Linked DNA regions of Homo sapiens: region 2 is linked to region 1. The links come from fine-mapping of genetic effects on gene expression. A gene starts in region 1. The other region holds a variant in brackets. All regions are shown on one strand. Distances are between the middles of the regions.

The links. PIP is the estimated chance that this variant, and not a neighbour inherited with it, causes the effect. A credible set is the group of variants that fine-mapping cannot tell apart.
Region 2: its variant is the best candidate, but not a certain one, in a credible set for the expression of KIF26A in testis (GTEx, PIP 0.86).

Annotation. Positions count from the first base shown.
Region 1 is chr14:104,129,238-104,144,844 of GRCh38, forward strand. KIF26A (kinesin family member 26A) reads left to right here and starts at 9,350. Exons shown (of 15, transcript NM_015656.2): 1 at 9,350-9,527; 2 at 9,806-10,051. The coding sequence starts at 9,486. KIF26A-DT (KIF26A divergent transcript) reads right to left here and starts at 9,392. Exons shown (of 3, transcript NR_158217.1): 1 at 8,293-9,392; 2 at 7,630-8,005; 3 at 5,546-5,935. RefSeq lists enhancers at 5,261-5,760, 6,369-6,942, 7,229-7,940, 7,941-8,652 and a silencer at 8,349-8,518.
Region 2 is chr14:104,170,601-104,186,207 of GRCh38, forward strand. It overlaps KIF26A (kinesin family member 26A), which reads left to right. Exons shown (of 15, transcript NM_015656.2): 6 at 1,123-1,335; 7 at 1,975-2,068; 8 at 2,377-2,639; 9 at 2,730-2,913; 10 at 3,106-3,268; 11 at 3,548-3,710; 12 at 4,382-7,298; 13 at 7,950-8,155; 14 at 8,636-8,786; 15 at 9,009-10,294. The coding sequence ends at 9,190. Among named protein-coding and RNA genes, the nearest start is that of KIF26A-DT, 40 kb to the left of the region's middle. RefSeq lists enhancers at 1,104-1,817, 8,596-9,130. The variant T/C (reference allele first, on the strand shown) is at 7,162.

The DNA.
Region 1 (15,607 bases):
TTCCCCTCCCTTCCCCTCCCTTCCCTTCCCCTCCCCTGCCCTCCCCTTCCCTTCCTTCTTTCTTTCTGTAGAGTCAAGGTGTTACTATGTTGCCCAGGGTGGTCTTGAACTCCTGGCCACAAGTGACCCTTCTGCCTCATTCTCCCAAAGTACTGAGATTACAGGCATAAGCCACTATGCCCAGCCCCATGCTCTTTGATAGAAGTTTAAATTTCTTCTAAATGTGTTAAAATACATGAAGTAATCTAATTCCTTCCTTTTTTTCCTTCTCTCTACCTGTAGAGAGTGCTTAATGCTTGCTCCAATATGAACCCGTTGGGACTGCCGTTCAGTGGACATCCTTGATCTCCATTCACCACTTTCTTGGGTTAGCTCCCATCTCCTTGATTCCACATCCTCTTTTTCCTTGGTTTAGTTTCTTGCTGTGGGGGAGCCCATTATCCAAGAACTTAAAGAAAGAGAAAAATCAAAGGCAAACCTTTTTGTCTTTACTTTTATGCTAAGCTGATATTAATAGTTTAGCTGGGTATAGAATTCTAGACAGGGAATCATTTTCCCTCAGTTTTGGACACTGAAATCCATCATCTTCTAGTTTTCATTGTTTCCATTGAGAAGTCAGATGTCAGTTGGCTTCCTGATCCATCCTCCTCCTCTCACCCCCAGAAGCTTTTAGTATCTTCTGTTTTTTCCTGGTGTTATTTTGAAATTTCAAGATGTTGGCCTTTTCTTCCCCGCTTTCTTGTGCTGGCCATTGAAGATTTCTAGCTCTTGGTTCTGGGCAAATGTTTTGGCATTATTCCTTCACTCATATTTTTTCTATCCTTCTCAGGAACTCCTGTGATTCAGATGCTGAATTTCCTAACTCTGTAATTCAAAAAATGCTCCCATCTTATTTTCCAACTCTTTTTTCTTTACTTTCTGGGAGGTTTCCTTAATTTTATCTTTCACCCTCTTTCTTGAATTTTATTTGTTATTATATTTTTATTTTCCAAGTGCTTTTTAAAGTGTCCTCTGAATTGCATCTGCACTTAAGTTCATGGAAGTCAATATTTTCTTTCTCTGAGGAAATTCCACGGTCATGCTCAGGACTAGTTGTGGAGATGCCATATCCTGTTAGGCCCTGGGTGGCAGCTCCTGAAGTGTGTGGTGTCTTTGGTGTGGTTAATGGTGTTGCCTGGACCCCAGGGTCTGAGGGAGTGGCACTCTCAGCATTCCCATCTTCACTGATTCAGCACCTCACTCTGTGTGGTGCATCAATGCTCTACACTCTCGTGTAAGCCATATTCACACACACACACACACACACACACACACACACACACACACACACAGCCTCTACTCATGAGGCTGCCTTCATGCCCAGCCCTGGTCCCTGGGGATCCGGAGCTGAGGGAGGCTGGGGGTTTTGTATGAGGTTCACCCCCAGGCTCTTCAGGAAGCAGCGGGGCCACTTCTGGCATGGTGGCGGGGCTGTCTAGGCAATGCACCTGTGCTAAGGGGTTTCTCAAAGTTTTGCAGATTGCACCTTCAGCCAAAGTGCCTGGGGACTCGGTAAGACTCCTGACCCAGGTGTTCTTCTTCCCCGGTCACTGCCTATCCTCAAGCTGGAGGCTGAGCCCAGCCTACAAGGAGTAGAGGGAGAAGAGGCAGGAACAGGAGGGGAGAAGGAAGTCAGGGGTATGGGGTTAGATGCGCCAAGGCCTGTTAGGTGGAGTGGGGGCACTGGTGAGGCCACAGGGCTGGCCTCATGGGCCTTGAAGGTGAGCCCTGGGCTCCATGCCCTGGTGCACCCTTCACTGTCTCTGGGCCTCAGTTTTCCTATCTGCATAAAAGGGGAACTGGACCAAGAGAGTGCTTTAATCGTCCTCTGGCCACAAACTGTGGCCAAAGTGTGCCATCTGCTGGCCACAAGTGACAGTGTCCCCATTCGAGATGTGGCTGAGGGAGGTAGAGACTCTGGAGTCCTGCCAGGGCTTGGGTATTGTGGGCATGGAGGGAGGTTCAGGCAGCCAGATCCCGTGTTGGAGGGGAGAGGGGAGCCAAGCACGGCGGGAAAAGATCCAGGCTGCGGGCCTTGCAGGCTGGGCTTGGGGCCAGGGCTCTCCACCCTGGTGGGGAGGGCACTGGCTGGAAGGTTTGGAGGCCACTTGGTGCTACACACGTCCTCCCAGGAAACAGAGAAGGTGCAGGTAGGTCAGGAATGCTTCCACCTGGGCCCAGGAAGAGTCCTCAGGCTGGGGCAGCTGGGCGCCGCACACTGGCTTGCAGGTCCCATGAGGTCAACCTGGCTGACTTAGGGCTGGGCTGTGGGAACCCGGGCAAGGCATCCTGAGGGTGGGGTCTGGCACTGCAGCCTCGAGGTGCAGTGTGGTGGGGGGTGAGAGGAGCCAGGGTGGGGCCAGTGAGGTGGCCAGAGCAGAATATAGGGTGGGGGCATGGCAGGGCCGGGAAAGGCTGGGATAGGAAGGACAGGAGCCCCTCTGCAGGGGGAATGCAGCAGGACCTGGTGGCACAGAGAACAAGCCTGGGGTTCATGCATTCCTTTATTTCTTCCACAAATGTGAATGAGCTTCAGTGCTGTGCCAGGTGCTCAACCAAACATTTCCTGCCCTCATGGAGCTGATATTCTAAAGGGGATGAAGGACAATAAACTAGACAAGTAAGAAACATCTAAGTCAGCTCCTGGTAAGTGCTAAGGAGGGAGAGGAAACATGGGCAAAGCTGCAGGATGCAGGAAGGGCCTGACATTTTAGGTAAGGTGGGCAGGGAACACTTTGCTTAGAAAAGGCCTGGTGGCTCACGCCTATAACCCCAGCACTTTGGGAAGCTGAGGCAGGAGGATTGCTTGAGCCCAGGAGTTCGAGACCAGCCTGGGCAACATAGTGAAACCTGGTCTCTACAAAAAAATCAATAAGTTATCTCAGAGTGGAGGTGCGTGCCTGTGGTCCCAGCTACTCAGGAGGCTGAGGTGGGAGGATCGGTTGAGTCTGGGAGGTCGAGGCTGCAGTGAGCTGTGATTGCGCCACTGCACTCCAGCCTGGGCGAAAGAGCAAGACCCTATTTCAAAAAAGAAAAGACCTGGAGAAAGTCAGGCATGTGGATGTCTGGGGGAAGAGCCCCCTGGCAGTGGGAACAGTGGAGCAAACGCTCAAATGGGGGTGACTGCACGTTTGGGAACAGCGAGGAGGCCCTTGGGGCTGGAGCAGAATGCGTAGGGGGTGCAGAGCGGGAGGAGACGGGTCAGTCAGCCAGGGCCGAGAAGTGGAAGGAGCCCACCGCCTTCTTAAAGGCTCACCTGGCGGCTGTGGTGAAGCAGGCATGGCATTGCAGAACCCCCTCCAGGGGCTGACATTCCATTAGGGTGGTAGGGACAGGAGATCCTGATGGATGGGCTGCGGGGGCCGTGAGCAAGCAGGAGTCAAGGACGACTCCAGGATGACTGAATTGAAAGAGTGAATGAGCGAGGCCGGGCGTGGTGGCTCACGCCTGTAATCCCAGCACTTTGGGAGGCCAAGGCGGGCGGATCACGAGGTCAGGAGATTGAGACCATCCTGGCTGACACGGTGAAACTCCATGTCTACTAAAAATACAAAAAATTAGCCGGGCATGGTGGTGGGCGCCTGTAATCCCAGCTACTCAGGAGGCTGAGGCAGGAGAACGGCGTGAACCCAGGAGGCGGAGGTTGCAGTGAGCTGAGATTGTGCCACTGCACTCCAGCCTGGGAGACAGAGCAAGACTCCAAAAAAAAAAAAAAAAAAAGAAAGAGTGAATGAGCAAATGAGTGATGGAGAGCTTGACACCCCAGGACACTCCCCCATCCCCCTTCCCCTCGCCTGCAGAAGCCCCCTCCTGGTGCTGGCCAAGGTGCTGAAGCCGCGTCCTAGGCTGTCCCTCTGTGCTGGACCTGGGGCTCCTCTGGCACAGGGTGAGGTCTGTGGAGCCATCAGCTGTTGACCAGCGAGCATCCCCAGTCTCTCCCTACTCAGCAAACCCTTAGCCAGGATCCGTGGGATCCTGGCTGGGCTCCCAGACCTCAGTTCAGAGCTGACCACCCTTGTTCGTGCTCCATCCTGGCTCCGAGGCCAGGGCTGGGGTCCCTTGCTCTGCAGCTGGGCCCTGGGGGAAGAGGGAAGGAGGCTGTAAACACAGGGCTTAGGAGCACAGACTCCTGGGGCGAAACCTGGAGACTGACCTCCCCACTCTGGGCCTCATTTCCTCATCTGTAAAACGGCGATCATACAATACCCGTGCCTAGCACTGTTGGGCAGATTAAATGAGTGGATGTTACCAAGTGCGTAAGACAGAGCCTGGTCCGGAGAACAGGTGGGTGTCAGCTAAACCCCATGGCCGGCCACCCTCCCCCAAGCACTCAGACACCCTCTGAAGAACTGGTGCAGTGACCACCTGAAGCCTGCCCTTGGTGCTGAGGACGAGGGGCCTCGCTTTACTAGGAGGCCCTGCCCTGAGCCGGGGTCGGCCTCCCTTGTGGCTGCCTTCCTGAGGCACCCTCTCTCCTGCACCCCAGACATGGTCCTGGCCTCCAGGAGGGATAGGTGAGCAGGGAGCCCAGGGAGCTGGTCAATCCTGGGAACGTGTGGGGAGTGTCCCGAGGCCTCCTTGAGGAGAAGGGTTTTTTCCATCCCCCTCAACTCTTGGAGAGGATGAGGGTCTGTCTGATGCCAGGTGTGATCCTAGGGCCATGGGCCTTGTATAATTTTATTGTGGACAGTTTAGGCCCTGTAACCCTTCCTTATCTCTTTATTAAATGCTAAACAGGATGGTTAAAAACCCCACAAAAGTCAAAACCGTGCAGAGGGGTGTAAAATGGAAGTGAAACCTCTCCCGAACCCCACTCCTACTCTCTCTCCAGAGGCAACAATCGTTACCTGTTGCTTGTGTCTGTCCCAGGAAAGGTCCCCGCCTTCATAAGCATAAACCTTCTCTGCAAAGGCCAACGGGGCTGTGCCGCACACTGCGTGCCCGTCCCTGTCCCGGGTCCACCTGCCGTCCATCCACTGTCGCCAAGGATGAAGAGACGATTGGCCATTCCTACCCAGCCGGTTTCCACTACTAAAGACACCTCTGGCAAGTGTTCAGTTTCCGTGGGAGCGTGTCTGGGGTGCCTCCCAGCTCTTGCCCTGCACACTGAAGGGACGTGGATGGGGGTGGGGTGGGCTCTGGAGGGACTGGTCTGCCTCCGGGTACCGTCCACCTCGTCACACATGAAGACACGAAGGTGCGGAGAGGTGGGGGGCGGGGCTCTTGACCAGCACCAGCAGGCTGGGGAGAGATGGCGGTATGGAGGGCCCTGGGCTCCAAGCACCCAGGGAAGGAATCTGAGCACTCAAGCCCCATGTCCTCCTCCCTCCCTGAAACATTGCTGCGTGTGGTCTGAATGGAAGCCGAGTTCCGGCAATTAATCCCATCAGAGGGGCCCTGCTGAATGGTAGGAGGTTTTTTTCTGTTTTGCTCCCTTGGTCTAGATTTCCCTGGGGACAGCTCTGACCAGCCGCCGCGTGCCTGGTAAATTAAATGTTAAAAAAAATCCCCACAATGACTTTAATCAATCCACTGACATGGCGGGTGGCCTCCCAGAAGCCCTTGGTCCGCTGAAGGGAGCCCCCCCCTCCCCGCCCCAGGCTCAGGGTCTTGGATGAGACAGGATGGGGGAAGAGGACAGTCTTCCCCAGTCCCCTTCCTGTGGGGGAGGGAGGAGGGTGGGTGGTCCCCAGAGTGTCCTCCTGGAGAGGGACAGAGAGAAAGGGGGGACTCTGGCCCCCTTTATAACTTGCCCTGATCCCAGGCCAGGAGTGATGGTGGACGCAGGGAGGGGGCAGCTCTTCCCCGCCTCTCTCCTGACCAGAAGCCTGGGTGAGTACAGAGCAGGTGGTCACGATCGGCCATGTGGTCAGCAAATCCAGCGTTTATGGTGATTCTGTTGGAGACAAATGGCAGTGCTGGGCTCTGGGTTGGAGTCAGGTTGAGACAACGTCCTTCAGCCTCCACTGGGGGGAGTCAGGGGAAGGACCGGGGGAGCAGGACGGCCTTGCGGCGCCGCCGGAGCAGTGGGGTTGTGGGGCGTGGCCATGGTCCTTCCCAGGGGAGAGTAGAGGAGTGCAGGGGGCAGAGAGCACAGAAAGTCTAGCCCAGCCTTAGCACCCCAGCCAGGCCATAGGTGCGCGCTGGCGCCGCTGAAAACGTTCTCCTTCCCTCGCCTGTCCACCTTCCAGGTCCTGCTCAAGGCGCCTAATATCCCCTGGGCAGGGTCCCTGACACTTCCTTAACTCCCAAAGACCTTCCGCGTGGGCCTAGCGCATTTAGGCGAACCTCTCTGCCTGCTTGATCCTCTCCCTTCCTCCCTCAAGCCAGGCATCTCACCCACTTGCGCGCGAGGCTGGGGCAGCCCACAGGAGGAGCGCGGGACCCGGGCTTGAGTTTGCACCCAGGCAGAGCGCCCACCCCCGCCCCTAGCTTCGGACCCTGAAAGTAAAGTCGTCGTGCCCGGCAGCCAGCCCGAATCTTCCAGCCCTCAGGGAGTCGGGGTCGGGGCAGGGAAGGCCACGGGTGGCGGCACAATCGGGATCCTGGAGTGGAGGCGCAGACTGCGGGTCCCGCTGCGCACGCTCCGTGGTCCGGTTGGGGTGGGCCTTGGAGGTCCATAGGCCAAGGTTGAACGGGGGCTCTGGAGCGTGGGCGGGGTGGAGTGCACAGGTCACTGGGCTCTGAGCGTTTCCATGGGCCAGGACCCCAACGCGCCGTGTCCTCAGGACAGATTGGAGGGGGAAGGGGCTGCGATTATGCCCCAGTCGGAAGGGTTTTACAGCAGCCGCGCTGCCCTCTCCCTGCCGGATACCCGGCAGTAGACACCGACGTCTGGGGGCTAGCGAGGCAGGTGGGCGCGGACCGCGACCCGATTCTGGCTTCCAACCTCCGCCCAGTGGCGCGCGGGGCCGTCGCCCCACACCTCCAGTCCGCGTGGCTGGTGTCTGGCTCGCCGCCGGGGCGGAAGGGGCGCTGTCGGCGCAGGCGGGCGGGGCCGGAGCGCGGGGGCGCGCGGCGCGGAGCGAGCGCAGGGCTCGGGGGCGCGGGGCGCGGAGGACCGGGGGCTTGACGGGCGGCCCTGCGCGGTGCGGGGCGCGGCGGCGGCGGGCGCGCGGCCAGTGAACGCGCGGGCGGGGCGGCGGTGGCGGGAGGCACTAGGGGCCGCTCCCCGCGCTTCCCTCTTCCATGGCGCTGCCCCAGCCGCCCGAGCCGCCCCGCGGCGCGCCCCGCAAGGCTCCCAGCCTGCTGGAGATGGGGGCGCTCTGCCTGGACTCGGAGATCATCCTGGGCTTCACCAGCCACCTCCTGCGGCGACGAGGCAAGGTGAGGGCTGTCGGGAGGGGGGCGGGCGGCGTAGGCGCCGTCCCGTTACTTTGCCGCGCGGCTCGCGCGGCCGGGGGTGCTGCGCCGGGAAGGAGACGGCAGGTCCGGAGCCGCGTCCCGCAGCCCGGGCTGGGACTCGCTGCCGCACTTTCCCCCATTAGCGTTGTCCAAGTCTCCCTCTGCCTTCAAGGCTGTGTCCCAACCGGACCCACCCGGAGGCTGTGGCTAGGGCGGAGAGCGCAGCGCAGGGATTCTCGGGCTCACCTTGCGCCTTGCTAGGATGGGCGAAGTAGGGGGTCGGGGCCCCTGACTGATCGTGAGCCCCCGAGGTGACTCCAGCCTTGTGCACCCCGTGTTCTGCGGATATGGGATGTGAGCTTGTGCTTCCCGAAGCGCCGCGGCGGTAGAAGCGCTGAAGTTGCGGGTGTGGCTGGCCAGGGGCGCAGGACCGGTGCTCCCGACCGCTGCGTGCTTCTGTGTTGCGTGTGTGGGTGGGGGGACGGGATATAGAGAGTGTGTGTCCCGGAGCAGTGGAGCGGCGGGAGGCGGTGCTGTCTGCCGGCAGTGCGGGGTGGGGTTTGGGTGTTGTCCTCAGTACCCAGATCCAGATGTGGGCTGACGCCCGTTTTCATTCTCCAGGCTGCGAAGAGACGGGTAGGGGAAGCGCTTCCGGCCCCCCAGGCTGGGTGGAAAGCGACTGCAGGCTTACGGATCTCAGAAAGAGTGGAGAGCCCCTGCCACTTTATTCCATACCCCCTTGCGTTTTCGAACCCCTAAGGTCATCAACGACCCGGAAAGCCGGGAGGGGATCACCCACCCCACTTTCTGGGGAGTGCGTGCGTGGGCGGGGAGGCTTATCCAAGTAAAAGGGGGTGGGCAAAACGGAAAGGGTCACTTTGACGTACTGAGTCTCTGCGAAGGCCTCACCGTATGTGCCGGCAGCCGCGTGTCCTGGTCTCCGCCGGGTCACGACCTTCGGAGTTTCCGAGTGCGCCTCAGGCCTGGGACGCGCGGCGCTGTCTCCCCAGTCTCGGAGCCGTGTGCGCAGCGGCCGGCAGGGGGCACTCGCGTCACGGGGAGCCCGCCCGCCGCGCCCGCCTGGCTTGACCCGGGCTTTGGGGCTGACCCGGAGCCTGGCCCGGAGCTGCCTGCGGCCGCGGATGCCGGCGACATTTGGGGCCCGGCTAGGCACAGAGCAACTGGTCGCCAGGGAAGGGCGGGGGGGCGGCCTCCCAGCCGGAGACAAACAAGCAATTAATTCCGGAGCTGAGTTCCCATCTGCCAGGCCTGCTGACAACAGGTCCGGCGCACGCCCGCAGGACCTCCCGCTTCCCGGGCGGCACGGCGCGCACACCCACTTGCGGGCACACGCGCGGCTGTAAAGACACGTGCCGTTCGCAGACGCGCCGAGGCACAGATACGCCGGCGCGGTCGCTGCCCGGCTCGAGGCGCACACCGCGGCGACACTAACCCACGCGCGACAGTTAGACCTAAAGTGGCCCGCGACACGCAGAGTACGCTGGGCTTGCTGGAAAGGCGCCTGGGAGTCTCGGGGCCGGGGTCCCGCCCCTTCCTCGGCCCACCTCGCCGTGGGCCTTGGGCAAGAGCGTCCCCTCCGCAGCCTCAGTTTTCCCGCCTGTAGAGGGAGGGGCGTCGGCGCCTCCTGGGAGACGCGCAGCCCTGGTGTCCCGGGAGAGGGGCGGGAGGCGCATGCGCGCGCGCAACTAGATCCTCGCCGCCGCCCCCAGCGCCCCTCCCCGGGGCAGGGACTCACCTAACAGGTTGGGGTCCTTGGAGTGCGCGGGGCCGCGTGGGGAAGCGGGGACCCTACCCCCCCCACGCGCCGCCCAGCACTGGGCAAGGGCGGGGCACTCTCTGGGCTCCCGCCCCTCGCCGCCCGCCCCGGGAGCCCGAGCCCCGCCCTTCCCCGGCCCCGCCCTCGCCTCCCGAGCGCGCCCACCGGAGCCACCGCGCTCCTCGCGACACTCGCAGGCTCTGCGAACTTCCGAGCGGCTGGGCCGGGCCATGGGGGCGCCTCGGGGCCGGATCACGTAGCCGCGGCGCCCCCGGAGAGCCAGCGTGGCCGGGAGCGCCTGCCGGGCTCTTCCCGCGCCCCGGCCATGGTCGGCCGCGGCGTCCCTCTGTGCGCTGCGCAGCCCGCGGTACGCGCGGCCCGGCCTGGAGAGGGAGGCGGGCGGCGGGGGCCCGGGACGGCGAAGATACTCGCGGTGTGCGCTGGATCCCTGGGGGCCGGGCCTCCTGCTGAGGGTAGCGGACCCGCAGGCGGGACCTCCGGGGATGGAGGGAGTGGGTGAGCGCCAGGGTCGTGCCCAGGGCTCCTAACTTTGGCAAGAGCGTCACGCTGGGGCAGGGCGCGCAGGGGTCTGGATCCGACGGACGTCCCAGGCTCACTGTCCGCTTCCGCCCCCACACCCTGCAGGTGGCCGAGGGCGGCCCGGCCCGCGAGCCGCCGCCGCTGCTGGAGGTGTCCCCCCGAAAGAGGCTACCCGCCGGGCCCGACCAGGACCCATGCGGCAGCCGCCCTGCTCCCGAAGGCGCCGGGGCCGGCCCAGAGCAGGGCCACTCGGCCGGCGGAGGCGGCTGGTGCCGCCACTGCCACACGAAGCTGGTGGAGCTCAAGCGACAGGCGTGGAAGCTGGTCAGCGGGCCCGGGACCACCCTCCGGGTAAGTGACACTTCCTTAGGCCGACCCCTCCGAGCAGGGCCACGCCGAACTTGGGTAGAACTTGGGGCTTGGAGGGAAGCAGGGTTCCACTCCTTCCCTGCTGCTGTTTCCACAAAGAGTTATCAGCCAGGACTTCCCTTCTGCGGGCCTCAGTTTCCCGGTCTGTAACACCATGTGTGAGCTAGGGAGCTCAGCCCGAGGGGCCCTGCTGCCTCGGATGGGAGGGGCCTGGGCTGGCGTTCCTCCCCCAGCCCAGATGTCCCACAGCTGGAACGCAGGTTTGTGTGGGAGGAGGAGGGGAGAGAGCGGATGGCAGGGACTCCACCCAGGGCGGGACAGCTCCAGCCCTACCAGCAGGGAGAGGTTATTTGGTGCATTGTGGCCCTTGGGGCACCTGGGCCCCCAGCCAGGTGTCTGGAAATTACATACCTGGGGCCGGGGGGCCTGGCAGGTGAAAGGGTGGGCCACAGCAGCTGGGGGGTCCCTGCCTACTCCTCTCCCAGCCTCAAGGATAAGAACTGTTGTCCCATACCTCCTGGGATAGACTGAGGCAGTGGCCGCCCATGGGGAATTGAGTCGGGGCCCTCTGGGTTCCCCAGGCTCCAGCCCCAGGGGCAGGTGCTTGCAGGGGAGGGGTTCTCCTGGATTTCCAGCCAGTGGGCCTGCCGGCTTTGGAGGGAGCAGGGACCATTGTTCCAGGAACAATGCATGCTGGAAGTTTGCAAAGGCTGGGGGCGGGTGGGGGTCTCCAGAGGAAGCCCGCTGCCGGGCCTTCAGCCTTTATGAAAGAGTTCCTGGGAAGTCCGCATAATCCCCATTGAATCTAAATATAGTTCTCTAAGGGCTGTGGGGGTTGGAGTGAGCTGAGACCCTGACTGCCCTGTCTGGGGCAGGGCAGGGTGGGGCAGGGTACCAGTCTGGTTTCTGTCCTGGGCACCGTCTCCGGGCTCTCTGGAGTCTCGGCGAGGGATAGGATTGCTGTAGCCTCTCTCTGGCTCAGGCCAGGCGCCTGTGGGCCTGTCCTGGGGTGGGGCTGGACCCGCCCTGTCCTCTGCTCTGGACAGGCTGCAGCCTTGGCCATACTCTGTGCCCCAGTGGCCTGTATCTAGTTTAAAAGGTAGCAGGAGACCCTTGAGGGCCCCCTGGAGAGGGCCAGCCAGAGCTAAAGGCCCATCTTGCTGCCCCATTAGGGGAAACACGCCAGAGACAGGAGGGGCATTAAGATTGAGCTGGTCTCCTCATTCTTGGAGTGGGCTTGGACTGCTGATGCTGCCTGGCCCTGGGGCCATGGTCCTGGCATGGACTCGTGGAGGGGAGGGGGCTCCTGGTCACGGGCAGGCCAGGGGTCCTAGTGGAGAGGGCTGCAGGTGATACTAGTCCCTGGTGGATTCTAGGTTCCTCATCTAGGGGGGTGTCTTGGTCTCTTCTGGCAGACAGGTCTTCAGGGGAGCCCCAGACCACCCATCTCCAGCCTCCCCTGAGCTTGGCCTTTGACACTGGAAACTCCTCTTGAGTGCCAGCTGGGGGCTCCCCCTTCCCTAGCTGGCGCTGGCACTCAGCACACCGGGGTCCCGGGCTGGTCTCAGCCAGGGCTTTGTTCTGCTCTGGGCCCCCTTCTTCTGCTTTGTGGTCTCCTCTGTCACCTGGGGCCTGTTGTGAAGTGCTGTCCCACCTGCAGGGTGCTGTGCCCCCGGGAGAGAAGACCCCATCCTCCACTGTCTCTCCACAGGGCATGGGGGGCTGCACCTGCCATCCTGGGGCCTTACGGGTGTCATTGTCCTGTCCCCTGTGCGGGCCTGGGCTGTCCCCAGAGTCCCAGCAAAATTGCAGCCTGCAGCCCTGGCCTGGCCCGCTGGGCCCAGATGTGTGGACATGGCTGCTTCTGTGTTTGGGTTGGGAGGGAAATCTCTGGGGTGGCCAGGGAGACCCCAGTGTGCTCCCCGGAGTCTGGTGCACTGTCCAGTGGGCCCTGGCCTCTGCTCTGTAAGGCCAACGTGGCAAGGGGTATTTAGGGTTGGTGTTCTAGGATTTCCCCAGGGGCCCGTTTCGTATTTTTTAGGGGAGAGATGAGCTTCCTTGAGGATAGCTGTTTACAGGGAACTTCACAATCATCCATCTGTCTCATGCTTGGATCTTCAGAAGCCCAGAGAAGTGGAGAGACTTGCTGGGACCCGGCCTGGCTATTAGAGGCCCTCGCCTCCGGGCTTCCTGCCTGTCTCCGTTGTAGAGGGAGGCGTAGAGGGTCGGGGCCCAGCCTGCCAGGGTCTCCCTGCCTGTCTCCGTTGTAGAGGGAGGCGTAGAGGGTCGGGGCCCAGCCTGCCAGGGTCTCCCTGCCTGTCTCCGTTGTAGAGGGAGGCGTAGAGGGTCGGGGCCCAGCCTGCCGGGGTCTCCCTGCCTGTCTCCGTTGTAGAGGGAGGCGTAGAGGGTCGGGCCCAGCCTGCCAGGGTCTCCTTGAATGTGTTGCTCTTTAGCAACACCCGATGCCTGCATGGTCCTGCCTATGCTCATCCCCTGCTGGGCCCTTGCCCACCCTCCTGCCAGGAGGCAGCTCCCCTGAGCAGGTTCCCGAGAGTTCTTGGCCACTGTTTCCTGCTCTGCGACATGGGACCGTCTTTGTGCCCATTGCATAGGTACGTAGAGCAGTGCCCGGAAGGGATGCACTCTCACCTTGGCAGCTGCTGCTGCTGTTTGCTGAGTTAGGGACTCCGAGTCCCTGGGGCTGTTGGAGCCCAGGTTCCCGGCCTACCTCTCCCTTGCTGTGTGCTCTTGTCTGCCTGAGCCTGTCTCAGTTCCCTTGTCTGGGCAGTGAGGGTGACCATGGTCCCCTATCTGGGGACCTCATCCCTGTGGCATGGATAAGACTGTGCCCTCCCCACCTTTCTGAGCTCTGGTGCCCCGTCTGGGGCCGTAGGGGAGGGGGACATTGTCTTCCTGCCCCTGTTGGAGCCCCAGGGGATTGTCTTTCCTGATCTGAGAAGGGTGCTTGGCCCTGGGTGTGGAGGGGAAGCCCCATGATGGGACTCTGGCCGTGGCTCCTGCTCCTCACTGTGTCCCCACACTGTGCCCTCTGCTCTCACCAGGGTCCTCAGGCCTTGTCTCCGGGCTGACTACTTCAGGACCCCCATGGCCTGGAGCGGCCCCCTGTGGCCTGGCCTCCTGTGGCCTCCAGGGACCTTTCTCTAATGGGCTGCTCTGTCTGCCCTGCCATAGATGCTGTCCTCATCCCAAGACCCCCTGGCCTCCCTGGGCTGGAGGCCCCTCAGTGTCCCTGCTCTGGCCTCAGGGGCCCCTTCTCAGGTGCCCCCAACTCTGAGATGTCCCTGTGGGAGGTTGCAGCCTGGTGCCTCCCATTCAGCAGGCAAAGCTGGGGCCTCCCTCTTTCTCCACATCTAAGGCCCCCCTCGCTTCCCCATGCTCACCCACCACCGCAAACTGTTGTGGCAGACCTCTTCCCTCTCCCTGACCCCAGTCCTGGTTTCCCCCACAAGCAGGAGCTCTGCCAGGTCAGGCATGGGGTCCGGGTCACCTGGAGGTGTTTGTTGAATGACTGAATGACCAGGCTTTTCCTCCCACACCCCACTTGCTGGTGGTCACCCCCGGGACTGCTGGGGCTGGATTCCGGCTATCCGCCCCTCAAAATGACAGTTCCCATGGAGGATGACCATCCCCCTCCCCCACAAAGGATGGTTCCCTGCTTCAAGGAGAGGGTCCCTGCTTGGGGATCCATTCCAGCTGCTGACAGACACGTCATGTGAGGTGTTGACTCCTCCTGAGACCCCGTGACATTTGAAGCGTCAGTACCGGTGCTGAATTGATTATCGCCCCCGATGGGGAAAATGATCAATTCTCATTTAGCTCCCGTGCATCTCTTGCTTATCCAGGCAGGGGCCTCATCCTTATGCCCCCAAGAGCTCCAGAACCACTGTTGGTGCCGCCTGCTGGTGCCACGCAGCTGAACAGTGAGGGAAGCTGCCCATCGAGGCTGTGGCTCTGGACTCTCCTCCCGGCGAAGCTCCGGGTGGCCCCTGTGTACAGGGAATCAGTTGTCATGGTCTGAGGCTGGGAGCCCTCCTACCGCTCTGTGTGGCTTGGCGAGTCCTGTTTCTCCTTGGACGCTGCTCATGGGCTTCTGTTTGCTTCTCCTGTTGCCTCTCTGGTTTGACTGGAGGTGACTCCTGCCAGCTTTTCGTTCCTCCTGCCAGCTTTTCGTTCCTCCTCTGTCACTTGTCCGAGGAAGCCCTCTTAGCCCCCTGGATGGATGGGGGCATCTCTGTCTCCACAGCCCCCAGGCCTGTGATTTGGGGGTCCCAGGTCTGTTGCCCCCAAATAGGCAATGGTCCTGGGAGGGTAGGAGCTGCGCCCGAGTGGTCCCATGACGGATGCTCGCCACTTGTGGTCAGAGCCCCTGGGCCCCCAGACTTGGGGCTGCCACCTTCCCTCGCTGCTTGGAGCCTGGCCCGGCTTCCACTGCTGCCAGGGCCACCTTTGTGCCTGGCAGTGGCACCCGCCTCGGGGATCCGCAGGGTGGGGTGCCTGGCATCAGCAGCATTCCCAGCTGAGCCCAGGTGTCACAGGCTTTGGTGGCAGCCTGGGGAGGTGTGAGGGGGCACGGCTCCCTGGCTGGCAGGCGGGGCACTGGCTAACTCTACCAGGAAGGGCTCTGCTCGGGAGGCCGTGGAGCTCGGAGCTCCCAGTTACTGTTGGGGAGGGAGCCTGGGGAAGGGCCGGGAGGGAGGAAGCCTGGGTGGGCCCAGCCTCGCTGTGCAGCCTCTGTGGGACCTGGGCTTTCTCTTCCCTGGACAGGCGGTGCTGCCTCCGGGATTCCCTGTGGTTCAGCATGTGATGGGTGGAGGGCACGTCCTTGTGCTCGTCTTGTCTCTCTTGCTTCTTTGGGGTCCCAGGGGTTGAGGATGGGCATTTGGGGGAGGACTTGAGCTTGAGGGATGTGAACCATTGTCCTCTGAACACCAGCCAGAAGCAGAGATGGAGCCCTAGCGGCTTCCGGGGTACAAGCTTTATGTCGGGGCAGGGACGTGCTCTGGGGGAGTCTGGCCGTGGTCACATGTGGGCTGGGTGGGGATGGGATTGTGGCCGCTGGCCTCACTGCCTCTCTGCTGCCAGGTAGAGGACAGGGAAGGAGGGGGACTGCAGGCTACCCCCAAACCTTCAGCTGCTCAGAGTCCTGCTGGAGGGGCTTGTGAGGGTTTGGAGTGGGCTAAGGGAATGGGACTGGGGCCTTCCCAAAGCTCCCTTAAGTACCCTGGAAGGATCTCTTATTTGGGAATCAGAAGAGCTGGTTTTTCCCTTAAGTAACAAAGAAAGTCTAGTTCTTCTCTTCCTTTGCCTGCTAGGAAGCTCACAGCAAATGTGCTGCTCAGCTCTGGGCCGCGTGGGACTTTTCTTCTGCTCTAATGGGAACGGGTCATTCTTTTTGTTCCAGTTATGACTGACTGTAGTTGCATGGTTTTGTTTTTAGCTTATATTTTGTAGTTCCTGCGAGCCACCGCACAATCTTTGTGCAAGACAGTGTGGGCTATGAGTAAATAAGTAAGAGTA
Region 2 (15,607 bases), 41 kb after region 1:
AGTGGACTGTGGTGTCCTCCAGCAGGAAATGGGGCCTGTCTCTGGCTCTGCGTTGGAGCCCTGGTTCAGGGTGGCCCTCGTGTGCGCAGCCTCTGCCGGGTCAGAGCCGCCGCCTCCTGGCATCGACGCACCAGACCCACCTGTGTGGGGTGTCCCTGCTGTGGATGGGTTTCGGAGTGTTTGCAGTGATTGCTCTGGGCTCCGGCATCCTGGGTCCTGCCCCTCCCCGGCGTCTGCCCCCTCTCAGGGTACTGGGGCTGGTGTCAGGGTCTTCCCGAGTCCGGTGCCTGTATGTGGCCCAGTTTGAGATCTGTGTGTGTGCTTTGGAGACGCCATTGCTTCTGCCCAGCACCAGGGCTGCCTGGTTCCCTGCTGGCTCGGGAGGTCAGTCTGGAAGCCCAACCCACCCTCAGCCTGCCCCCCAGCCTCAGTCTCCCCAAGCCTGCAGTGGGGCCGGTGAGGCCGAGGCGTCAGAATTTGTATCTTCCCCTGGATGGGATCCTTCTTATCTTGCCCGTCCCCGTTTGCATTCGAATGGGCTTCCCCCTGCTTTCTGCTGACTCTAGTCCGGCAGGCCACAGGGTGCCAGGGTTCGGTTCCCTCAGCTGGCCAGGGTCGGAGGCAGCCATGCCCCTGGATGGCTCCCCTGACAGCGCCAGCCCTCTGCGGCTCTCACACCTCTGTGGGGCAGTTCATTCCCTTATCTTGCAAGTGCTCCCCCTCAGCCTGGGGAGCAGCCTGCGAGGGCTGGGCCAGGGGGCCATGCTCCTCCCTCCTGCCCTCTCCTGGACTGAGCTGCTCTGCAGGACCTGAGCGGCTGTCCTCTTCTCACGGAGGCGCCCGGAGCCCGCCGCCCCCTCATTCTCTGTGCCGCACATTCGGTGCTGACAGGCTGTGCACCGGCCTTGCCTCTCCCTGGCCCTCACCTTCTCCCTGCTCTGCTGACCTCATATGGGATCTGCTCTCGCCTGGAGCAGGGGCGCGGTGTCCACATTCCTGCGGTGGGGGTGCCAGTGTGAGGCCTGGCCCGCTGTCCCCACCTGAGCTGGGCCCCTCCTGCCCTGTAATTAGTGGCCGGCTGGGCGGAGGCAGCTTCTCAGGTGCCGCCCACCTCTGCCCCAGGTGAAGGTTATGCTGCGGATCTGGCCCGCACAGGGGGCCCAGCGCTCGGCCGAGGCCATGTCCTTCCTGAAGGTGGACCCTCGGAAGAAGCAGGTGATCCTCTACGATCCCGCCGCCGGTCCCCCAGGCAGCGCAGGCCCCCGGCGAGCCGCCACTGCTGCAGTTCCCAAGATGTTTGCCTTCGATGCCGTCTTCCCCCAGGACTCCGAGCAGGTACGGGCAGGCGGACTGGGCGTCCTCCCGGAGACCCGGAGCCGGGCTGCTGGCTCAGCACATGGGTCCGATCTGCGCCCGCTTCTCCGTGCAGGGCGCAGAGGAAGCGTGAGCGAGGGGCCCGCTGCCTGCGGCGCCTGCCTGCTTACCTCCCTCATCGTCCTGGCCAGCGTCCTTGGGTGTCTCCATCCGCCCCTGCCGAGGCTCTGGGCCAAGTCCACAGGGAAAGGCCTGGTTTTCCGGAGCCCGCCCTCCCGGGAAGCTTTCCGAGCAGCTGTTGGGCTCTGGGCTCTGGGGGCGCCCGGTGCTCCCTGCCCATGCTGAGCCGTGCACCGTGTGGCTGCGTGTGCGTCTCTCTGCGCGTGGTGGTCTGCCCCTGCGCCCGGCGGCTGGACTTCTGGGCTTTGCGGGTGTGTGTCTGCACGTGTCTGGCCAGTCCCTCCTACGTGTGTCCTGGGTCCTGTTCATGTGTGTTCTGTGCTTTCCGTGTGCACATGGGATCTGTCCTTGGTCCCAGGTGTGCAGCCCAATCTCCTTGTGGGTCGACTGCCTGCATGTGCCAGGACAGACCGGCCTCAGGCCCACAGACGTGGCAGAAGGAAGGGGCCACAGCCCTGCCTGATTCTCTTGCCCCCCTAGGCCGAAGTCTGCTCGGGGACCGTGGCCGACGTGCTCCAGTCGGTGGTCAGTGGGGCTGATGGCTGCATTTTTTCCTTTGGCCACATGAGCCTGGGTAAGCACCCTTGCCCCACCCTAGATGGGTCCTGCTGGCCACCCCCTCCCATCCTCATCACGGTGGTTGCTGGCAGCTTCTGATGGGAAAGGAGGCTGGTCCTACACATGGGCCGTGGTGGGCATATGGGGTGAGGGGCTTGTGGAGAGGAAGCTGAACCCCTGCCGAACTGAAAGGCAGAGGGCTTAGGATGGATCCAAAGAGGCCCCTGAGATCTCGGTGCCCCTGGTTGGCCCCCGGGGACGCCAGTAGCCATAAAGGCTCCTTGCGTGGTGTGTGGTGGGGCCTGACGCCTGCGTGGCCCCCAGGCAAGTCGTACACCATGATCGGGAAGGACAGCTCACCCCAGAGCCTGGGCATCGTGCCCTGCGCCATCTCCTGGCTCTTCAGGCTCATCGAGGAGCGCAGGGAGAGGACGGGCACCCGCTTCTCCGTCCGGGTCTCAGCCGTGGAGGTGTGCGGGCGCGACCAGAGCCTGCGGGACCTGCTGGCCGAGGTGGCCCCTGGCAGCCTCCAGGACACCCAGTCTCCGGGAGTGTACCTGCGGGAGGACCCCGTGTGTGGGGCGCAGGTGCGCCTGCCTACTGTCCCACCTTGGGGGAGGGGGGCTGCACTTGGCCCTGAGCCACTGAAGACGCCGCTGCCTCTGCCTTTCCTGCAGCTCCAGAACCAAAGCGAGCTGCGGGCACCCACGGCCGAGAAGGCGGCTTTCTACCTGGATGCGGCCCTGGCGGCCCGCAGCACCAGCCGAGCGGGCTGTGGCGAGGACGCCCGACGCAGCTCCCACATGTTGTTCACGCTGCACGTCTACCAGTACCGCATGGAGAAGTGCGGCCGGGGAGGAAGTAGGTGCCACACCCGCACTCCCGGGCCCCTGTGGGATGCGTGTCAGCAGAGACCCAGGCACAGGGGCCTGTCATCCAGTGGCTCCTGGGGATGTCCCTGGGGTTGTCCCCAGCTTGGGCCTGGGGTGGGGATGTGGAGCAGGATCTGGGGGCCCCTGGCTACACCATCATTTGCTTGCCTTGTGGTTCCAGTGTCCGGAGGCCGCAGCCGCCTGCACCTCATCGACCTGGGCAGCTGTGAGGCGGCGGCTGGCAGGGCCGGGGAGGCTGCTGGGGGTCCCCTGTGTCTGTCCCTGTCGGCCCTGGGCAGCGTCATCTTGGCCCTGGTCAACGGAGCCAAGCATGTGCCGTATCGGTGAGTGTAGGGCCTGGGCAGGTGCCGACCAGGGTGGCCCCTTGGTGACCTGGTAAATCCGTGTCTGGTGTGCCCGGTGCTGCTGTGGCCCCCAGCTCCTCAGGGCTTTGCTCCTCCACCACCTGACAGGCCTCGCTGCCCGTGGGCTGCCTGGGGCCCCACGCTGGGCTGGTGCCGGAGCTGGGTGGGAACCAGACTGATCCCAGGGCTGCCCTTGGCCAGCCTGTCCCCGAAGCTCCCTTCCCAAGGCCTTGGCATCTGAACCGCCTCGACCCGCAGGGACCACAGGCTCACCATGCTGCTGCGTGAATCCCTGGCCACCGCTGGCTGCCGCACCACCATGATCGCCCACGTGTCGGATGCGCCAGCCCAGCACGCAGAGACACTCAGCACCGTGCAGCTCGCCGCCCGCATCCACCGCCTGCGCAGGAAGAAGGCCAAGGTGCTCCCCACCTCCTGCCCGCCCCATCTCGGGGCCGTCTCGGCTCCTGTGTCCACTGCAGGCCTCTGCTGGCCTGGTTGGGGTGGGGGTCAGCAGGTGGCCTGGAGCCTGGGTAGATGTCCTATGTGTTCTGATGTCATGAGGCTATGCCCATGTGGCCCTCCCTGGGGGGTGGGGAGCCCAGCCTGAGGTCCCTGGCTGCAGTGGGCAGAATCGGGGCTTGCTGTATGTGGCTTGTGGTGGCCTCACTCCAGCCTGCTGCCCCCGCACAGGCCCTGGGGTGCTCAGGAGAGCCGCACCACCTCTGCAGGGGCTTCCTAGGGACCCCTCTCTGGGGCTGGAGGGTGGAGTTTGGGGCACTCTGGGGTTACACGGCCCTTGGTGTGAGTCCTGGCCACTGGCCTGGGCACACATGCTTGTCTTTTGAGCTTCCCGTTCCCTCCCAGCGCGGGGTGACACCGTTTTCCTTGTAAAGTTGCTAAGAATGGTCACTTAAGTTCTTCCCCTGAGACTCAGTTCCGCTCCCAGCGTTTGGTGGGACATGGTTGGTGGTGCCTGCTGTAGTTTTCATCACAGTGACCGCAGCATTGGCCCTGTGCTCTGGGGAGGGTCGGGGAAGCGGGGGCGTGTAGGGGAGACTGGGCTCGGCAGCTCCACTTTTCTTCCCCCAGTACGCCTCCAGCTCCTCTGGCGGGGAGAGCTCCTGTGAGGAAGGCCGGGCCCGTCGGCCCCCGCACCTGCGGCCCTTCCACCCACGCACTGTGGCCCTGGACCCCGACCGCACGCCTCCCTGCCTGCCCGGTGACCCCGATTACTCCTCCAGCAGCGAGCAGTCCTGTGACACGGTCATCTACGTGGGGCCCGGTGGGGCGGCGCTGTCAGACCGGGAGCTCACCGACAACGAAGGTCCGCCTGACTTCGTGCCCATCATCCCTGCCCTGAGCCGCCACCGGCCCTCCAAGGGTCCCCGAGACGCAGACCACTTCCGCTGCAGCACCTTCGCGGAGCTGCAGGAGCGGCTGGAATGCATGGACGGCAACGAGGGTCCCTCAGGAGGTCCAGGTGGCACCGACGGAGCTCAGGCCAGCCCCGCCCGAGGGGGCCGGAAGCCCTCGCCACCAGAGGCTGCATCCCCCAGGAAGGCCGTGGGCACCCCGATGGCTGCCAGCACCCCTCGAGGCAGTTCTGGTCCAGACACCCACCAGGGTACCCCTGAGCCCTGCAAGGCCATTGTCTGGGGTGACCAGAGAGAGGACAGCAGCGCTTGGCCTGAGCTGCTGGTCCCGGAAAAGGCTGCAGTGAGTGGAGGCAGGAGGCCACTGCCCAGCCCGGCTCCCCCACCTCCTCAGTTGCTGGAAGCCTGCAGAGCCCCAGAAGAGCCTGGGGGAGGGGGCACTGATGGAGTGGCACGGACCCCTCCCGTGGGCATGAGTGGGCAGGTGGCTGGGTCCCCGATGCTTCCTGGGGCCACCTGCCCCCGCCTGGCTGCTGGCAGTCGCTGTCCGGAGCGGGGCCTGCTCACCACCACAGTGACCCTGCAGCGGCCAGTGGAGCTCAACGGCGAGGACGAGCTGGTGTTCACGGTGGTGGAGGAGCTGTCCCTGGGGGCGCTTGCCGGAGCTGGGCGGCCCACCAGCCTGGCTAGCTTCGACAGTGACTGCTCCCTGCGGGCCCTGGCCTCGGGGTCCCGGCCAGTCAGCATCATCAGCAGCATCAATGATGAGTTTGACGCCTACACCTCTCAGGCCCCTGAGGGGGGGCCCCTGGAGGGGGCAGCCTGGGCCGGCAGCAGTCACGGCTCCTCCATCAGCTCCTGGCTCAGCGAGGTCAGCGTCTGCACTGCCGACAGCCGTGACCCCACGCCGCAGCCCCGCTTCAGCCCCGACTCGCTGGCAGGGCTTGACCCTGGGGGCCCCCCTGCCCTGGATGGTTCCCTGGGGGATGGAAGCTCTGGGTTCCTGGGGCCAGACAGACCTGACAGTCCTGGGCCAACCTGGGGTCCGTGCCCTGGGGAAGTGGCTGCAGTGGCCCCATCCCGACCCGGCAGGGAGCCCCAGGCCGGGCCCTCGCGGTGGGCATCCGCAGCCCAGACCATCCACTCCAGCCTCCCCCGGAAACCGAGGACTGCCTCTGCCACCACCCGTGTGGGCTGTGCTCGCCTGGGCCAGAGCCCACCTGGCCGTGGAGGCCTGTTTGAGGACCCATGGCTGCTCCGGGTAGGGGAGTGTGATACCCAGGCAGCTTCTGCTGGCAGGGCCCCCAGCCCCACACTTGGCTCCCCCCGGCTGCCTGAGGCCCAGGTGATGCTAGCCTGTGCCCAGAGAGTGGTGGACGGGTGTGAGGTGGCAGCCAGGGCGGCCCGCAGGCCAGAGGCTGTGGCTCGGATCCCACCGCTGCGGAGGGGTGCCACCACGCTGGGTGTGACAACGCCAGCTGTGTCCTGGGGAGATGCTCCCACGGAGGTGGTGGCCTGCTCGGGGAGCCTGAAGGCCTCCCCCACCAGCAAGAAGGGTCTGGCTCCCAAGGCGGGCTTCCTCCCGAGGCCCAGTGGGGCGGCCCCCCCGGCCCCACCCACGCGGAAGTCCAGCCTGGAGCAGAGGAGCAGCCCGGCCTCGGCCCCTCCGCATGCTGTGAACCCGGCGCGGGTCGGGGCTGCTGCTGTCCTTCGAGGGGAGGAGGAGCCCAGACCCAGCAGCCGGGCTGACCACTCTGTCCCCAGGGCCACGTCCAGCCTGAAGGCCCGGGCCAGCAAGGTAGAAGCAGCACACCGTCTTGCCGGACACGCGTCTCTGGAGCGGTACGAAGGCCTGGCGCACAGCAGCAGCAAGGGCCGGGAAGCCCCTGGGCGGCCTCCCCGGGCTGTACCCAAGCTGGGTGTGCCACCCTCCAGCCCCACACACGGTCCAGCTCCCGCCTGTAGGAGCGGCGCAGCCAAGGCTGTGGGGGCCCCCAAGCCCCCTGTTGGTGGAGGCAAGGGCCGTGGCCTAGTGGCTGGTGGGTCGCGGGCTCTGGGGCCTTCGGTGAAGCTGTCTACGGCCTCTGTGACGGGCAGGAGCCCTGGCGGCCCTGTGGCCGGTCCCAGAGCAGCCCCACGGGCCGGGCCCAGTGTCGGGGCGAAGGCTGGCCGGGGTACCGTCATGGGCACAAAGCAGGCGCTCCGGGCTGCTCACAGCCGCGTCCATGAGCTGTCAGCCAGTGGAGCCCCGGGCCGAGGTGGCTCCTCGTGGGGCTCGGCGGACTCAGACAGCGGCCATGACAGCGGCGTGAACGTGGGGGAGGAGCGGCCACCCACGGGCCCGGCCCTGCCCTCCCCCTACAGCAAGGTGACCGCCCCACGGCGGCCCCAGCGCTACAGCAGCGGCCATGGCAGCGACAACAGCAGCGTGCTGAGTGGAGAGCTGCCGCCCGCCATGGGCCGCACCGCCCTTTTCCACCACAGCGGTGGCAGCAG[T/C]GGCTATGAGAGCCTGCGGCGCGACAGCGAGGCCACCGGCAGCGCCTCCTCCGCCCCTGACTCCATGAGCGAGAGTGGGGCTGCCTCCCCAGGCGCCCGCACCCGCAGCCTCAAGTCCCCCAAGAAGAGGGCCACAGGTGGGTGCAGAGGTGCACAGCCCTCTACAGTTTACGGGCTTTCTGTGTGTAGATGTGCACAGCCCTCTACAGTTTACAGGGCCAGGAGATGCTGGACAGATGGGCACAGCCTTCAAGGTCCCAGACCCACACAGCCGTGGACGGTTTACAGACTCGCCTGGGGCTTTTTGTGTGTGGAGGTGCACGGCCCTCTGCAGTTTATAAACCCCCTGTACTTGCCCTTCTCTGGCCCCACCCTGCCCTGGGGGGCTGATCCTGGTCTGTGTCTGGGTGAGCACAAGGGCAGCCCTGCACAGGTCGCCAGGCTGGGGCACTGGACTCGGGTTTGGGTCCCGGGCCTCGTGCCTCCCTGGCGAGTGTCGAGCTGCCTGGAAGGCCCCCGCCAGGGCTGCCCCAAGGGACAGAACTGCTCAGGTCATGGCAGGGAAAGTGGGAGGCCCTGGTGGTGGTGGGGGCGCCCTTGAGAGCTGTGGGCCTGGCTTGGGGTCGGCTTCCTCCCTGCCCTGGGCAGAGCGCCAGCCTGAGGATTCCTGGACTGGATCCCGAAGGCCTCCCTGTCAGGACTCGGGCCGGCTCCGCAGCGTCCCCGCAGGGGCTGTGCTTGGGCTGGGCCCCGCCTCTGTTCACCCTGTGCCCGGCTCTCCGTTCCAGGTCTGCAGCGGCGGCGCCTGATTCCCGCCCCACTGCCCGACACCACTGCCCTGGGCCGTAAGCCCAGCCTCCCCGGGCAGTGGGTGGACCTGCCCCCGCCCCTGGCTGGCTCCCTGAAGGAGCCGTTCGAGATCAAGGTGTACGAGATCGATGACGTGGAGCGCCTTCAGCGGCCCCGCCCCACCCCGAGGGAGGCCCCCACCCAGGTAGGGCCTTTGGTGGGCTGGGGTCTATGACCCCTGGTGGGGAGCCTGCCGCGGATGGCAGAGTGAGCCATTTGATGGGCTCGCCAGGCCTCTGGGGGTGTGGCTGGGCAGCCCCTGACCTCACTTTCTGTCCACGTTCCTCCCAGGACGCAAAGGTAGGAGCGGCCCTGCCCAGCCCAAGCCTGTTGCAGCTCCGACACTCCCCTTGGGCAGTGGGTGGGTGGCTGGGGGGTCCTGAGGCCACTGCTGCTGTCCGCTGGAATTCTCCCCTGTCGTGGGGAGGGTGGTCCTAGAGCCGAGCCAGGACCCAGACGGGCATGGGTGGGCTGCCCCAGGTCCGCCCCCTGCCCGCCCTTGGAGCCCCACTGTGTGCCTGCCAAGGCCTGGCAGGTGAAGGGAGGCGGGGGCCACATCAGGGCTGCTTGGGGGTCTCTGGGGAGAGGGTCCCATGCCTGAGCCCCCGCCCGCCCTGCCTCCCAGGGTCTGGCGTGCGTCAGTACAAGGCTGCGGCTGGCGGAGCGCAGGCAGCAGCGGCTGCGGGAGGTGCAGGCCAAGCACAAGCACCTGTGTGAGGAGCTGGCCGAGACCCAGGGCCGGCTGATGCTGGAGCCTGGCCGCTGGCTGGAGCAGTGTGAGTCCCGCCCGCCCACGGACCCAGCCCGGCCCACCGTGTGCCCTGACAGCTGCCCTCCCCTCCCAGAGCCCTGTTGCTCTCCTGTACCTCGTGGTGGGAAGGCTGGAAGGCAGGGTCGGCCGGGCCAAGATGCCTTTCCTGGGGCCTCTGGGGGGCCAGGTGGCTGCCCCCAGCCTCGGGCCTGACGCAGGTGCCCCTCCCCTCTCCTCCCCTCCCCAGTTGAGGTGGACCCGGAGCTGGAGCCCGAGTCGGCCGAGTACCTGGCGGCCCTGGAGCGAGCCACGGCGGCCCTGGAGCAGTGCGTGAACCTGTGCAAGGCGCACGTCATGATGGTCACCTGCTTCGACATCAGCGTTGCAGCCAGTGCTGCCATCCCGGGGCCGCAGGAGGTGGACGTCTGAGGCTGGGCGCCGGACAAGAGGAGGGGGCGTGCAGCGGGCTGGAGGACGGGACGTGGGACGGAGCGAGGATGTGGTGGGGGCTGCGGGGGGAGGATGCGGAGGGGTTTCTGTGCAGGACGGGAGTCTCAGAGAGGAGACGGAGTGTGGGGGAGGGAGGGCCGGCCACGCGGTGGACAGAGCGAGGGTGCCAGGGTGACCAGAAGACCGTCACCACCCGACAGCAACGCAAGTGCCTTTGACCTTGATTTGGACTTTTCTCCCTTTTGCATTTGGTGCTACAGACTTGAGACACCAGCAGAAGTTGTGTTCAGCCCGGCCCCGCTGCGCCTGTCCGGGCCGGGGCTGGCGCCGGTTGTGTTTGTGTCCACCTTGCCTTCTTTGCAGCCAAGCAGTTTTTGTGGAGTGGAGTGGGACTTACCTGCACGCCCCAGGGGTCTTTCAGGATTCAGGATGACTTTTCTTTTACAATGGTTTCCTCTCGGCAGAGCCCGGGTTGTGGGGGATCTGTGTGGGGTTCTCAACGCAGATCCATCCTGGGGTCTCCCGGGCAGGGATGGCTGACCTCGAGTCCCCTCCCTTCCCGAGAACCCGCTCTGTCCCGAGGGCAGCTAACAAGGGCTGAGCCCCAGGTACAGGTTGCCTCTTCCACGGCAGGAATTTTTACCAAAACCACAAGCAAAAAACAAAACAGACCACCACGACCAACAACAAAGATGGGGGGTAGGGTTTTGTAAAGGTTCTGTTAGGTTCATATTTTTATATCATTTTGCCCATAAATGCGGAATTTGCCGTGGGAATTTGAAGACAAATGATCTATGTTTTTATGGTTTTCTAGGGAAGGTGTTCTGGGGGCCGGGCTCTCTCCAGCTGTGGGAGGCCTGCTCCCTCTGGGGGGCACCCTGGGCAGGGTGGGGGGGCCTTGGGAGGCGCTTCTTGCCAAATGCAGACGAGGGGTGAGCCTGCCAGCGTTTGCGACGTCCCCGCACGACAGGCTCATACTTTCTGAGGATCGTGCATAGCATAGGACGTCTGAACCTTTGTACAAATGTGTAGATGACATCTTGCTACAGCTTTTATTTGTGAATTAAAGATGCATCGATGGTTCCCACGGCTGCCGAGTTCACTGGGCGTCGGCAGACTCCTCACGCCCTGGTGTGCCGCCCTCTGAGGGTCCCTGGGGTGACGGGCAGTAAGCGTGGGAAGGACACATCCACGGGGACCCAGGGCTTCGGGTGCTGTGCCAGGGCCTGCCTTGCAGCCCCTGTGGGGCCCACGGTGCCATGAGGGCCCTTCAGAGAAGGTGGAACACGACAGAGCTGGGATTCAAGCCCACGCTTCCTTTCTGATCTGCTTTCTTGTTGACTCTGCTGAGATCTTAGGGTCCCGAGGCTGGGGCAGGGAGCCAGGCTTGGGGGCTGGGCTGGCGGGAAACAGCCCTGTGTAAGCGGCCCCTGGCTCCCTTGTCTCTGGGTTATGCTGTGTGGGGAAGTCGAGGCAGGAGTGATGGCAGCATTTCCCTCCCAGAGTCTTCTTGCCATCCTCTGCCCTCTGCCTACCTTTGCTCATGGGCTCAGGACCCCCGAACCACAAGAGCCCCCTCCCGGGGCAGCCTGGATGGAGGCTCTTCCCTGGAGGACTCAGGCCTGGGTCTGTCTTGACCCCAGTTTGCTGGGCTTTCCCGTGGTCAGAGGCCCCAGACCCTTTGGGGGATCCCCAGCCCTTTGACTGCTGTGAGCTCATGGCCTCACCTGACCTGTACATGTGCCCTCTGGGGCCACCTTAGCTGTTGCTCTGGTTGCCTCCTGGCCTCTTCGGAGTCCTATCTGCTTCTCATTTGGTAGGTCCCCAGCGGAACTAGTTTGCTTCCTTAAGCCTGTTACTCTGTCCCCATGCCAGTACCCCCCGCCTGCCTGGCCTGCGAAGGTTGTGTCTGGGCACCTGCCCCTTTCTGCGGCTTTGCACTGGCTTCCAGCTGCTCCACTCCACCTTCAACCCGAGGTCCTGGCCATGAGGCCCCACCATCCCCCGTGCTGTGATCCCCTGCCCAGAGGCTGGCTGTGCAGCCCCTCCCTCCCTTGGGGACTCCCCCTGTCCCCGGCTAGGTGCCCCTCCCTGGCTCCAGGCGGGGGATGGTGGGGCCCCTCCTTGGTGGAGGCTCCTAGGCCTCTCTGCCATGGCACGTCACACCTTGTGCGGTCTCTGCCTGTCTCCCGGCCTGGCGGGGTCTGAGTCATCACCTTCCCCGATCCTGGGCACAGGGATAGGCCCAGCAGGGCTGAGGAGACACTGGCTGAAGAAGGAATAAAAGAATACGTGAATGACAGCATCCCCTTAAAGAGGCTCCGGCTGCGGTGGAAGCAGGTCCAGGACAGCTCTGAGCCGTCTGCAGAGAGCCTCCCGCCGGCCCTGCACTGTGGTCCCACACAGACACAGTCCTTCGTGTGGCCACAGGGCCCCCCAGGTCAGGCCACAGGGTCACCCGCACCCAGGCCCCTAGTGTCCATCGCAGGTGGCCCTTGGGACTCCAGCCTCTGGGATTGGGGTTGCAGGCCAGCCTGGGAGGCTGCTGGGGCCCCTGATCCTCCAGCCCCAGCCCTGCTTTTGTTGGAGGCCAGCGCTGCGTCCCAGCAGAAACTCAGACTAATGTGGAGGGCAGGGTTGTTCCCGAGAAGCCGAGGGCCACGCATGCCGGCTCTGTGCTGGGTTTGGAGAACTTGGCGAGGGGGTCGGGTCCGGGTGGGGTGTGATGGAGCTTGGGGTGTGGAGGGGTGATCCTCTCAGGACCCTGCTCTCAGGAGAGCCTGAGAAGCCCACCAGGCCTGTGTCCTGGAAACCTGGTGCAGCTGGCTGTGACCCCTGACCTGCACAGAGGCACTGGCCAGGCACTCTGTCCATGGGATCCAGGACAGTGCTGGGGTCTGAGTGGGGTTGGGTGGGTCAGGGTACCTCATTCTCAGGGACCGGGGTGATGCTGGTCCCAGGAGGGAGGCTGGGGAGCTGCCCTAGAGCCCAGACCACTGCGGGGTGCCGGCTCTTGCTCCCTTCTTGCCCTGTACCTGCTCACCTGCAGGGGATGGGTGGGTGCTGAGGCGTGTCTGGGTGGGTCCCTTTCTTTCATAGAGCACACCCTGCCCCCTCCCCATCCCTCTGTCATTGGAGGGGTCCAGAGCCTGCTTCTTGCTGGGGAGCCTGGTCCTCCCTCCCTGGACCTGGGTCCTCCCTGCCTGGACCCCGGTCCTCGCTGCCTGGACCCCGGTCCTCCCTGCCTGGACCCCCGTCCTCCCTGTCTGGACCCCGGTCCTCCTGCCTGCCGGGCTGGCGTGGCTGGGGCCTTGGGGATGGTGGCCTTTGGGCAGGCCAGGCCGGGCCCATTTCCCACAGTTCAGGCCTGGCTCTCAGAGGGCAGTGCCTGTTTTACAGGACGTGGAATCCACTGTCTTGGGGCCAGCCCAGGAGCTGGGGCGGCCTTTCATCTGGGACATCAAAGCCCTCAGCCCTGTCATTAGGGGCTGGAAAGCTGGCTGGGGAGCGGCCCAAGTAGGAGTCACCCATTTTATGGATGGGAAAGCGGCAGCCGCCCCGGACCCAGCTCTTTGACTGAAACTGAAGCTAAGGCAGCGGCACCAATGCAGCCTGCAGGGAGCCTCCACCTCCTGCTTCCGGGACATTTGGGGAAACTGAGGCCCTGAGAGGGCAAAGGAGCCTCCACCTCCTGCTTCCGGGACACTTGGGGAAACTGAGGCCCTGAGAGGGCAAGGGAGCCTCTGCCTCCTGCTTCCGGGACATTTGGGGAAACTGCGGCCCTGAGAGGGCAAGGGCTGCTTGAGCCTCCAGCAGGTGTTCCTTGAGGATTAGGGGGGCGGATTTGGAGTGTGCAGGGGCAGGATGGGAGGGGCTCACAGGGGAGGGTCAGGGTCAGCTGAGGTGGGGAGAAATGGCAGCCTACGGGGAGCCACGCAGCTGCTGATGGTGGATGGCCAGGGCTGAGGCGGGTTTGGGGTTAGGGGAGTGGGCGCAGGAAAGGATCTTGCTGGGCTGTGCCGGGCACTGGCAAGGTCCTCCCAGGTGGTGTCTCTTGTAGCCTCTGAGGCTGGCCTGGCACCTGGCCAGCCTGCCCCTGCCATGGAGTGAGGTGCCCACCTGACTCACCCAGTAAGTCCAGGCCTGCCCTGACGGCCCTGCCCACACCAGCCCTAGCACGGGAGGCCACGTTGTGGGGTGGGGTGACCAGGGGCAGGGGGTCATGAGGTGGCTAAGAGGAGGCCAGAGCTGGGTGGGCTGGGCAGGCCAGTGGGACAGGAGCTGAGCTACATGGCCTGGGGGGCCCGCAGAGCCGCTCCACAGTCCGCCCTGCTCGCAGAGTGGCGGAGGGTCCGTGAGCCACGGTCTGATTTCCCGGGGCCCCGCCAGGCTGTCTGCCCCGCTCCTTGCTGGAGGGCGGGGGGGTTCCCTATTCCAAGGACTGGGATCCGCAGGAGGCGGAAGAGCAGAGGCCCCTCATCCCTGGACTCTAGGGTCCTCCTATCTGGCTGGGCGTGGTAGGCGTCTGGGAAACTGACTGCAGCTTCAGTAGCAGGCGCTGGGCTCAGAGGTTCCCTGTGAGCCTCCTCCTGTTCACCATCCCAGGGACCACAAGTGCAACCCATAGCGATGGCCATGGGGATGTGACACTAGGGTGGGATGGGAACAGTGGCAGCAATGACAGTGGGAGTGCTGGCAGAGGAGCGTTGGTGGCAGGGAGGCTGGTGGCTGTGGCTGGGGTGGGGCCATTGGCAGAGCAGCAGCAGTACTAGGGATGGTGGCAGCAGAGATCCAACCAGCCTGGCTGATGGGGCAGTGTCGCCCCTCCTGGCCTGCTGGTCGCTTGGCTGCCCTCGGGCCTGTGTGTTCCTCATGAGGCCAGCAGGACGTGGCCCGAGCCTGGTCCTTTCCTGACACCCTTTTCCCTGGGAACTGGGAGTGAGGTCACAGCAGCCTCCACAGGGTTCTCACTGGGTCCTGAGCCCCAGCAGCTGAAGGGGGGAATGGGGGCCGCCTGGAGTGCCCAAGATGGGGGCCCTAAATAACCAGCAGCGGGGTCATTGCCGGATGATGCCACGTTCTCCCGGGGTCCCGGGCCGGGAGGGGAGGCTCTGCCAGTCCCCCTGTGTCTCGAGCCTCAGTCTCCCTCTCTGCCGAGGTTCCTGTTCACGTGTGCGGTCATGTGTGTGAACATGGCTCAGCACCTGTCCTCATCTGCTTCCCCCCACCAGGGCCGCCCCCGGCTACCGTGAAATGGACGGTGCTCTGGGCTCTCCAGAAGGGGACCAGTCTCGGCCCCCACACCCTGGTTCCCTGGGAATCCGAGGAGGCCCCTGCCCTGTGACTGCGCCCCACGCCCCAGGGCCTGTCTGCAGCCCTGGCGGGAGGGTGATTCCTGGGGTGGAGGCCCCCTGTCTGCTCCTCTCCTGGGAACGAGCCCCGCCCCACGGTGCCTGGGGGCTGGGATGTGCTCCCAGCAAACAGGAAGCCCAGGGTGACTTCTCCCTCCTGACATTGTGTTTACCAAGGCGGGATCCAGGCCCGTTTCCACACAGGAAACCCAGGAGGCTGGAAGAGGCTGGGAAGGAATTCCCTGGGCCAGCTAAGACGCTCCGGCTTCCTGTAGGACAGGCAGGCAGTGTGGGGTGGGGGTGGAGTGGGGTGGGGGTAGAGGTGTGGGGTGGGTGGGTTTGGGGTTGAGGGATGGGTAGAGGTGGGAGTGGGGGTAGAGGTGTGGGGTGGGTGTGGGTGGTATGAATAGAGAGATGGGGTGGGGATAGGAGTGGGGTGGGGGTAGGGGTGGGTTGGGGGAGTAAAGGGATGGGGTGGGGTGAGGGTAGGTGTGGGGGGATGGGGTTGGGGTACGGATGGGGTGGGAGGGTAGAGAGATGGGGTGGGGTGAGGGTGGGTGTGGGGAGATTGGGTGGGGGTAGAGATGGGGGTAGATGGATGGGGTGGGGTAGAGGGATGGGGTGGGTGTGGAGGATGGGGTGGGGTGGGGTGGGTGTTGGGGGTACAGGTGAAGGGATGGGGTGGGGTGGGGTGGGTGTGGAGGATGGGGTTGGGTGGGGTGGGTGTTGGGGGTACAGGTGATAAGCAGCTAGGAGTCCAGGGAGGCTCCTGGGGCTCCGGGTGGCCGTGGTGGAACCCCCTTCAGAGCTCTGGATTTGGTGGCAGCCTTGAACGTCCCTGTGTCCCCATGTTGTCACCGGGACCTGCAGGCCCAGGCCCAGGTCTGTCTCCCTTCAGACAGGCCAAGGCTGAGGGGCACAGTGTCTCCCTCTGCAGAGTCCCTGTGGCCGGCACAGGGGACGCGTGAGCCTGGACATTTGTGATTTCAGGGCAGAGGCTTCCAGGAGGGCTGGGAGCAGAGTGGGGCCCTGAAGGTGCTCGCTC